Linked DNA regions of Homo sapiens: region 2 is linked to region 1. The links come from fine-mapping of genetic effects on gene expression. Tissue or cell type: whole blood. Region 1 holds a variant in brackets; the other region holds the start of a gene. All regions are shown on one strand. Distances are from middle to middle.

Region 1 (5,359 bases):
CGACCCCGAAACGACGCGGTGCGCAAGTGGCCACGACACCTAGGCACTAAGTCATTTTCCCGAGGTAGCGGTACCCTCTGCTCCAACGAAGCCAATCTCCAGAAAACCTAACAGACTCAAGGTAAGGAGGCTGGGGAAACCCTTCGCTAGCCTTTCGGTGGCCCTAGGCGGCCGACCAGTCCCGCCTCTCTGGGAGACCCCTCTGCGTCACCGTGACGACCCATTCCCACGCAGGTGTCCCTCTTCTCAAGGCGGCCGCCCACCGTCCCCACGCAGCCTCCTTCCTCACCCGCGGCCGCCGCGCCACAGCCTGCTGCACGCGCTCGTTCACCGCCCGCAATGCGCACCCGACTCCCAGCTCGGCCGACATGCTGCCAGCTCTCCACATCCCCCGGGGACCGACGCCGAGCCCCAGGCCCCCGGCAGCCCGTGGCTCACACCATCTTCCGGTTCCGCCCAGCTTGCGCCGTGTGAACCAATCATTGCTCATCATTGAGTCGTCTCACCCAATCAACACCCGTGCAGCGTGGAGGCCCGCCCCCAGGCGGCGGCCATCTTGGGGAGGTCACCCGCGAACCTGGAAATGGAGCCTAGGGGCTGAGGTTTTGCGCGCCTGGTTCCAAGGGCCACTCCCCGTGTGCTCTCCTCTTTCCTGCGCCTCAGCCGCTGCCGTCCCCCCACCCCCAAGGGACTTTTGTGAGGCAGAAACGCATCCTATACTCGGGGGATCCTGTTTCCTTTCAAAACGCCTTTCCAGGCTTGCCCGTTCCCGGCTTTCTGGGCGCGGGGACCAGAATTAGAAGCCACTGGGGCGGGAGCCAGGGCTTTTCTCTGTCAGATGGTTCTTGCGAGGAACCCCTAAGCGATACGAAAGGAAACTCTTCTTTCTTCTTTTCCCTAAAGACATGGCGTGATTCAAACGTATCGTGATTTTTGTCATCTTTCAGACCACTGCTGTCCAAGAGAAATATAACGCCATCCAACTGTGTAATTTGGAAGTTTCTCATAGGCACATAAGCTTAAAAATTTTAATGATATACTTTATTTAATCCAATATATCCAAAGTAAGATTTCAACATGCAATCAATAGAAAAACTAAATGCGATATTTTAATTCTTTTGAAAATCGTATGTGTTTCTGAAACCCGGTGTAGTGTTGACTTGCATATGTCTCAATTCGGGCCATCCCTATTTCGAGAGGTTAGCGGCCACCTGCGGCCAGTGCTGTCTCATCAGGGGACACAGGCAGCATGATTATTACTATTATTATTATTGAGACAGTCTCGCTCTGTCACCCAGGCTGGAGTGCGGTGGCCCGATCTGGGCTCACTGCAACCTCCACCTCCCGGGTTCAAGCGATTCTCCTGCCTCAGCCTCCCCAGTAGCTGGGACTACAGGTGCGAGCCACCGCGCCCAGCCCACAGGCAGCTTTAGATGGTCTAGCAGGAGCTCAGCACATTCAGTTAGATTCTTTTTTTGAGATGGGGTCTCGCTATGTTGCCCAGATTATCTGGGACTCGTGGGCCCAAGCAATCCTCCCACCTCCGCCTCACAGAATAGCTGGGACTACAAACGGGCACCACAACGCCCTGAGTTTGATTCTTGAGTCCCCTTCTGTGGGCAATATGGTTATAAACTTGATGAGGAGCCAGGCCATACAAATAATAATACAGAATGCTACATAGTCAGGTGGTGAAATAGTAGGTGCTACGGGCAAGGAGAAGGAGATCAATTTTGTTAAGGAAAGCACTCTTGGCTGCAATTTCTGTTGAAAGTTTCTCAAACATTAATTCAACTTAATGAAGTGGGATGCTATTATATTAGAGAAATGGCTAATGTTTGTTCTTCAGGTGGTCTTGTCTTGAGGTGATGGGGTTTATTAGAGCTTTCCGGAAAGAAGGGGCAATATTCTTACTCTCTCCTCTCACAGTTTTTCCCCAGACTCCCAGGAACAGAGATGGAATTTCACATCTTCTGCTCTGGGAAAGTCACATTAGGCAGAACCTCAGATCCTTAAAATAAGGGACTTCTTTTTGGGAAGTCTCTGGTCATTTACCCTGGTACACATTAACTGGGTTATCTGCAAACTAGGACTGCCAACATTAGGAGTAATTGTGTTCAGATAAAATGTCTCTAGACTTGATACATCTGTACTCCAACCAAAATGATAAAAAAATTTAAAATGACCAGAATGGCCCTTTGTGGTGTGAGCATAATAGATGCTTGCTGTAGAGACACAGGTGGGAAGGAGCGAGCCAGCAGTGAGTGATGGGGAGGACAGAGGGGATCATGGTGATGGGATGTGTAGAGGAAGGATTGGGTGAGATGAAACACTTCAAATAATGTGCTATTTGGAAAACATTTTAAAACCATAAATACCTCACAGATCTAGGGAATGTATAATCCAGGTGTTACGTCACTATGACAACAAGTAGTTGTAGCTTCATTTACTAGATTGGGCCTCTATTCTTTTTTGTGTTTTTTGAGACGAAGTCTTGCTCTGTCACTCAAGCTGGAGTGCAGTGACGCGATCTCGGCTCACTGCAACCTCTGCCTCCTGGGTGCAAGTGATTCTCCTGCCTGAGCCTCCCGAGTAGCTGGGACTACAGGCGTGCATCACCACGCCCGCCTAATTTTTGTATTTTTAGTACAGATGGGGTTTCAC[T/C]ATGTTAGCCAGGTTGGTCTCGAACTCCTGACCTTGTGATCCACCCGCCTCGGCCTCCCAAAGTGCTGGGATTACAGTCGTGGGCCACCGTGCCCAGCCAGGGACCTCTATTCTTTGAACTACAAGGCAAGGTCATCCTCCCACCCCCTTATCCATTCAGTGAACATTTACTGAGGCGTTACTCTGTAAAGAACCCTGAGAGAGACCAGGCTGAGTAAGACAGGCTTTACTGCCGATTTACTTCCAATATGCTCGCTTTTCATCTCTGACATTCTGTGGTCTTATGAAAATGGAAATGGAGACAAAAAGATCATGGTGCCCCCAGTCCCATGGTCATTTCACATTCCAATTTCTTCTTAGTTGTACTTTTGAATTAATTTTATTTCACTTTGTCCCTTTTTTTCCTTATTTGCTTTTTTAATTTCTTCTCTTCCTCTTCCTGGGACATCAACCATCCAATTTAACCTTTCATCCTCCCCTACTACCTAATCCTTGAAAAATACAAGTCCAAAATCATTTCATCACCAGTAATTGTCTTTAAATTGCTCCAATAATTTGCAAGGACCAAGGGGAAAAGAGAAAGATTAAAAAGCCAAATGCCCAGAGAAACAGATTTTATAAATAATCTAAAATCTAGTATACTTATTCACCATCAATGCCATCAAGCTTTTAAAACACCCTCATAGTCTGGAATAAATCCAAATTATGAGAAAAACATATATGGATTTAAAAATTGTTTCCTTCTGAGCCTACTGTGAGTCTTTTAGGGGGATAAAAAAGTAAAAAGTAAAATAGAAAATTACTGTTGCCTGGTTACTTAGCTCTAAAGAGAAACGGAGAAATAATGCCCATGTCCCATCCCAGTTTAAATGAATTCAGGTAGAGTAGCCCATGACAGCAAGCCCTTGGCACACATGCCATCACATCTGGCCTTTGAAATGTCTATAGAGATAGTAGAACCCTAGACCTAGGGAAGACTTAGGGAGGTTTCATACAGAAAGAATGACATTTAAACCATCCCAAACAGCACAGAGTCTTCACAATTTCTGAAGACCATCAGAGAAGAATATTTATTTTCTATTTGCAAGTAACTACTCCTCCCCATTTGAAAATTTAGCAAGCCTGATCTTAAGTAAATTCTTTACAAATCCTCCTTTATTCAAGTGAATTTCCTCTTTTTAGCTACCAGTATGTAACTTTTATAATCGTGAAGTCATTAAATGTCCCTTCTGCCTTTTCTGGCATCAACCTATGAGCTTTATTTCTTAATTACTTTTTTTTTCTTTTTGGTTTTAACATTTTCTTTCTAGCTTCTTCAAATTTTTTTCATTTTTAAAATTGGAGACCAGAACTGGACAGTTCCTCTCAACAGGGCCAAATCAGATTCTTTTCTTTTTTTTGGAGATAGAGTTTTGCTCTTGTTGCCCAGGCTGGAGTGCAGTGGCGTGATTTTGGCTCACTGCATCCTCTACCTCCCAGGTTCAAGTGATTCTCCTGCCTTAGCCTCCCAAGTAGCTGGGATTTCAGGCATGCACCACCATGCCCGGTTAATTTTCTATTTTTAGTCGAGATGGGGTTTCTCTATGTTGGTCAGGCTGGTCTTGAACTCCCGACCTCAGGTGATCCACCCACCTCAGCCTCCCAAAGTGCTAGGATTACAGGTGTGAACCACCGTGCCTGGCTTCTTTTCTTTTCTTTTCTTTCTTTAAACCAGGTTATTTTCTACACAACATTTTTGTAGAGGTATGTATCCTCAATACTGTGTTTGCTGCATTGCAATGTCATTCCCTTCTTCTATGTGCTATCCCATTTGTAATCTTATTCCATTTTTTTTCACGTGTTTGGCTTTCTACTTAGTGGCTCCCATTTAATAGCTGTATGTTTTTTAGCCCGTTTCTCCAGATTGAAGTTTTTGAATACATACATGCAAGGTACAGTGTGAAAGCCCTTCGTATGCATTATTTCATATAAGCCATGCAACTCATTTTATTAATGAAGAAACTGAGGCTTAGAGAGGTCAAAAAACTTATTCAAGACCACACACCTAAGAAGTAGTAGAGCAGTGATTTGAACTTTGGCAGTCTAACTGCAGTAACTACACTCTTAACATAACTATTCAATTGTTAAGATCATATTATTTGTGTAGCAGGCTCTCAAACCAATAGAAAAAGCTTGGGATCCCTGTTAAAAAAAACCTGAGAAAGCCTGGGCTAGGGTTGCCGGACTTAACAAGTAAAAATACAGGATACCCAGTTAAATATGAATTACACATAAGCAACAAATACTTTGGTATGAGTATGTCTCATGCAGTGTTTAGGACACATAGTACTTAGACTAAAAATTGTACATTGTTGAAATTCATATTTAACTAGGTATCTTATGTTTTATCTGGCAACCCTAAGCTGGGCAGCTTTCCAGAGTAAAGACTGGGAGTTCGTCCACTGAACTGATATCAAAATGAATTTTGGTTCACTTGAAAATATCTTTGTCCTTTGGAGCAGAATTGCAGTGGTGTGTGAACTGTTTAAAATGATAAATCTCTATAGCACCTACCAAGAATTATGCCACGTTCACAAATTCTGTATCGATAATGGGGATAGATTTTCATCTGTTTATTTTTAGAGAGATCTTGTACTTAACTCACTAGTCTGGGATGTTTTATTTATGTCACCTAATATTAACTATTGCTAAATTT
Region 2 (5,326 bases), 36 kb before region 1:
GCTACCACGCCTGGCTAATTTTTGTATTTTTAGTAGAGACGGGGTTTCACTATGTTGGTCAGGCTGGTCTCGAACTCCTGACCTCGTGATCCACCCGCCTCTGCCTCTCAAAGTGCTGGGATTACAGGCCTGAGCCACCGCACCCGGCCTCAGCTCTGAATTCTTATGCAGCTGGGACTCACGCAGACGCTACCGACTGTTCCGCAGAGCAAGCATTTTTCTCCTCCAGAACTAAGTGAGCTGGGGAATGCCCAGGCCTGCCTGGACCCTCAAACCCCAGCGGACAGTCAGAGAGAGCTGCCCTGAACAGCCACAGGTGCCTTCCCTGGCCACAGCCTTACCCTGAGCAGCAGGGAGGCGGCAGCGAGCAGACACACCGCCTCCACCCTTAAGGCACACACATGCACACACACACCCGGGCCGGGGAAAATGCAGGCCGGGCGGCCAGCGTCAGAGGCTGACCAGTTGTGTCCTGTCAGGAAGCGGGCAGCCTCTGAACTCACCCAACCAGAGGCGTTACTGTATTGTTCTGGACACAATCGAAAAGACTGGGCCAGCCCCGACTGCGGGCAAGGGGCGGTGGAGAAACGGTTGCCACTGGGGTCAGGAGGACAGGGAAAGGGAAGCGGCTCTTAGGCTGGATTTGGGACAGGAAAGGAAGCGGCGGCCGCGGGGGCCCGACCCTCAAATCCACGGCGTGCGTGGAGCTGCGAGCACGTGGTCGGCGCAGGAAATCTCTGCGGTGGGGAGGGGTCGCCAATGCTCGCGCGGCTGCTGGGACTTGCGACCCCCTTGTAGGAGGCTTGGGGTCGGGCTGCGGCGCTGCAGCGCTCGCTGCCAGCAAAGCAAAGGCGTACTGAGGCCCTGACTAAGAGGGAAGTCGCGGAAGGAGGCCCGGGTGGGCTGCGGTGAGGGAACCCCGCTTCCCCAGCCGCGTTTCTTTCTTCGCAATCTTTGCGCGAAGTCAATGGAGAAACAGCCAAAGCTCGAGTTACTTCCAGGAGAGGCAAAGGAGAGGCAAGGACGCGGGACCCAGCACAGAGCTCACTGCACAAACGGCGCCGTGGGAGAGGGGCCTCTAGAGGGATGGGGACGCCAGGGTCTCCTGCAGCCCAGGAGCGCCGGTATTCCAAGGGCCGACTTTTCTGAGCCCAGCCTCCCCTTGCCCTAAGGAGACCGGCTGGAAGCGGCGCTGGCAGGCCAGGGGGCAAGGATGGGATGACCCCAATTGAAGGGACAAGGCCAGCCAGGTAAATCCGGAGACTCCTCCAGCCCAGTCCGGGACGCGACCGTAGTGGTTAGGACCACAGCCCCCTCCTGGGCCACGAGCGTCGATCTTTCCTGAGCATTCCCCGCTCTCACCCTTCTCAGGTCCCCAAAGTCCGCAACCCTAGTCCAGGCTGGAAATCCGGGGCGTGGGTGCCCTGCAGGCGTGCTCTCCACTTCACCTGTGCAGGTGAGTGGGCGCCTGCGGTGCCTTTCTCTGGGGTGCGCCTGTCCCCCGCAGCCCCTTCCCGCCTCCACGCTCCTGGAGCCCCAGTCTCTCCCCTGCTCCTCCAATCTTCCCCTCTGGGGGCCTGAACCCAGGCCTGTCCAGAAATCTCTGAAGTGGGGGGATAGCCCCCTTCCCCCTGCTCCCACCCCTCCCGTCTCGCCTCCCTTCGTCCCCAGTCCCGGCTCGGACGGAACTGGCCTGGTAGGGTACTCACAGGGTAACGGTGCCGTTAGGCAGAAGGCCGGGCTCGGGAGGCTCCGGGAGGTCCCCGCCGCTGCACACCACCCTCCGCCGAGCCGGGCCAGGGACGCCGCCGCTCAGCCCCTTGGGCCGCTCCCCCGAGCACTTGCAGCTGCGGATGGATAGCGGGCAGCCGGGCGCGCCCCGAGCCTCGGGCGCCAGGAGCAGCAGGAGCCACGGCAGCAGCGGCAGCAGCAGGCGCGCGGGCGCCCCCCGCATCCTGCGTCCCCCGGCGCCCATCAACCCATCGCCCCGCGGGGACCCACAGCGCTGGGGCCGGGCTGCGCGCCGGCCGGAGGGACCCAGGCGTGCGGGAGGAGTGCTCAGCGGGGGCCCGGGGCTCCCGAGGGCGTGGAGGGGGGCCCTGGGCGGAGGCGAGCCCCGGGGTCCCCGCCGCCGCGCCCCGGGGGCATGTCCTGCGAGCGCCCCGGCGGGGAGGACGTCGGCGCGGCTGTCAGCGCAGCGCGGGCAGCTCCCAGCTGCGCGGCCGGAGTCTCAGCGCCCGGCCCTCGGGACACTGGAGGCCCGGCCCCTCCGCGTCGCCTGCTCGCTGGGCGCTGGGCTGGGACCTAGCGGATCGCGCCGGGCTCCTGCTGCCGCCGCCGCCGCCGCTCCGTGCCATGGATGGAGGCAGCTCCGCGCCGCGCCGCTCCCGCCGCCGGTCCCCGCCCGCCCGGGCCTTCCGCGGGGCCCTAGCGCCGACCGACACGCGGCCAGGCCTAGACCCTCTGCCGAGTGGGGGCGGGCCAGCTGGTTCGAGGACCCTGCGTCCCCGCGCCCGCCCTGCACCAACACTCCTCTCCCGCTTGTCCCCGCGCCCCGGGCCAGGACCCTTCCTTTCCGCAACCCATCTCAGACCTCTGAGCCGACCACCACCACCTTCCACAAAATTTCCCTCGTCCGTGCCGGTGCAGCTTGCGTCTCCAGGCTGCTGGGGCCCTCCTGGACCCGCGGGCTTGGACAGAGACGTCTGGGGCGCCCTGTTTTGGGTTGAACTTGGTGGAAGGCTCCGAGGTTTCCTTTGGCCCCTGACACGATGATCAGTCTGGAAGTCGGCTCTCACTCTCCTTCCAGCTCCGGTGGAGGCAGCCGCAGGAGGATGGCAGCCGAGACAAGGAGGCAGCAGACCCTCCTCCGCTGCGGTGACCTCGCTCAGCGGGGGGTGCATGTCATTCGGCCAAGGAGAGGTCAAAGGCCAAGGCAGACAAGGCTAGAGGCTAGACTGGGCCTCCTACATTTTCCACAACGCTGTGTGTGTGTGTGTGTGTGTGTGTGTGTGTGTTTCGGGGACAGTGAGTGGGACAAGGGAAAAGTAGATGAGAAGGAGCAGGGCTTTGCAGCAGGGTGTGGAAAGAGCACTGCGCAGTGAGTCTGGAGACCCCTATTCCAGACTCGGCTCTGCCTCTCATTACTGTCTGACCTTGGACACAGCCCCTAGCTTGCTGGGGTAGCAGATCTCTGGGGTTGAAATGGGGCTCTGCCTGCTCCCCAGTTTATAGAGTGGCATTAGATGCCCAGTAAATCGTGGCATTAGAATAAGAGAGTGTGGTGGGGGGGAGGGGCACATGGTTTCCAAAGGCAGAGGACTGGTGGTGGCAGGGGTGACCTTGACAACTAGTGGTGGGTATAAAGCTGCCTGCAGGCCGGGCGCGGTGGCTGACACCTGTAATCCCAGCACTTTTCGAGGCCGAGGCGGGCGGATCACTTGAGGTGAGGAGTTTGAGATCCACCTGGCCAAAATGATGAAACCCTGTCTGTACTAAATATACAAAAATTATCCGGGCGTCGTGGTGGGCGCCTGTAATCCCAGCTACTTGGGAGGCTGAGGCACGAGAATTGCTTGAACCCAGGAGGCGGAGGTTGCAGTGAGCTGAGAGCGTGCCACTGCACTGCAGCCTGGTGACAAAGTGAGACTCCGTCTCAATAAATAAATAAATTAATTAAAAAAAAAACAGCCTGCAGTACACCGGAACCAGGGCTGGGGACAGGCAGTAAGAAGTGCAGCCCAGGGGTCTGCTTCCTCTGTTTCCCCACAGAAGCTCACCTTTCTGTTGCTTAATAGAGCTGCCGGGATGGGGCAGGACTCCCGTTCCCCCTCCTTCACTCTACCACCCAAGCGGTCCCCAAGGTGAATGCCACATTCTTTAGTGAGCTTAGCCCTGCTGATGTGCGGTGGTGCCTTTTCTAGGGCCCCTGTGCCTGTCAGCCAAGTCTACCCTGACTATGCAGGGAATGGCTTTCTTCTCTTGCCCGTTGGCGTTGGCGGCAGGCAGGGGCCTAGATGTTGGCTTCTTCACTTTCCCTCCCTGGCTCCACAGATCTCCCCCAGTTGCAGGCTCTCTGGTTCCTTGAACTTCCAAAGATAAATAAATAGTGATTGCAAATGGAGGAAGGGAGAAGGGGAATGGACTCCCCCAGCAGGAGCCCTCACAGGCGGTGGCCCAGGCTGCATTCCTCAGGAAAGAGCTGACAGCAGAGCCACAGCCCATAGGCAGGGCTGTGCAGCCCTCCTGCTCACAGGCAAGGAAGACTCTGAGATCTCTGGCCTGGGTCATATAGCTTTTCTGTGATTTCCTTTGGCTAAATGAAGACACTCAAAGTCTAAAGAAGAATTCTACTGGAACACCCACTCCTGGAGGCTGAACAGAGGCCAAAGGACATTTAATGAGGCGAGGCTTCCCCACCACTAGGAATGAAATGTCTGATGGAGACATCTACAAAACACTGGACTGTCCTGAGGGTCACCACATTTGACTTCTTACCCACCCAGGGAGGTGATGAAGTGGAGGTTACTTTCTTATTTTGCAAGTATGGATGAAGAAACTGAGTCACTGAGACTAGAGTCCAAGGGTAGGAACTTACTTTCTGATTCCTTTTTTTGTGTATGTGTGAGACAAGGTCTCTCTCTGTCACCCAGGCTGGAGTGCAGTGGCAGGAACACGGCAGCCTCGATCTCCTGGGTTCAATCCTCCCACCTCCGCCTCCCAAGTAGCTGGAACTACAGGTTTGTTATTGCATGCAACTAATTTTTTTTAATGTTTTGTAGAGATGGGGATCTCGCCATGTTGCCCAGGCTGGTCTCAAACTCCTGGACTCCAGCAATCTGCCTGACTTGGCCTCCCAAAGTGCTGGGATTACAGGTGTGAGCCACCATGCCTGGCCATGAGCATGTTTGTCTGTTTGTTTGTTTGTTTGTTTGTGATGGAGTCTAGCTCTGTCACCCATGCTGGAGTGCAGTGGCACAATCTCAGCTCACTGCAACCTCTACCTCCTGGGTTCAAGTGATTCTCCTGTCACAGCCTCCCAAGTAGCTGGGATTACAGGCGCCTGCCACCATGCCTGGCTAATTTTTGTATTTTTAGGAGAGACAGGGTTTCACCATATTGGCCAGGCTGGTCTCAAACTCCTGACCTCAGGTGATCCACTCGCCTTGGCCTCCCAAAGTTCTGGGATTATAGGAGTGAGCCACCGCAACCTGCCATGAGCATGTTTTAATCCTTTTTTCTTCTTATTTCTAGTATACCGTGCCCGGCCATGGTTCCTTTTTAAGTGCTTTCTTCTCTGAGCCACAGGGAGACTTTCCCCTGGGAA

The links. PIP is the estimated chance that this variant, and not a neighbour inherited with it, causes the effect.
Region 2: ADGRA2 starts here. The variant in region 1 is fine-mapped to the expression of ADGRA2 in whole blood (TOPMed, PIP above 0.99).

The regions. Positions count from the first base shown.
Region 1 is chr8:37,757,689-37,763,047 of GRCh38, reverse strand. ERLIN2 (ER lipid raft associated 2) reads right to left here. Exons shown (of 12, transcript NM_007175.8): 12 at 4,626-5,359. It overlaps PLPBP (pyridoxal phosphate binding protein), which reads right to left and starts at 403. Exons shown (of 8, transcript NM_007198.4): 1 at 290-403. The coding sequence starts at 388. LOC124901934 (a long non-coding RNA gene) reads left to right here. Exons shown (of 2, transcript XR_007060889.1): 1 at 1-121; 2 at 235-5,359. RefSeq lists enhancers at 1-34, 343-637, 215-674, 775-854 and a silencer at 395-715. The variant T/C (reference allele first, on the strand shown) is at 2,665.
Region 2 is chr8:37,793,918-37,799,243 of GRCh38, reverse strand. It overlaps ADGRA2 (adhesion G protein-coupled receptor A2), which reads right to left and starts at 2,361. Exons shown (of 19, transcript NM_032777.10): 1 at 1,710-2,361. The coding sequence starts at 1,975. RefSeq lists silencers at 1,747-1,836, 2,117-2,286, 2,297-2,536 and enhancers at 2,800-3,365, 3,366-3,931.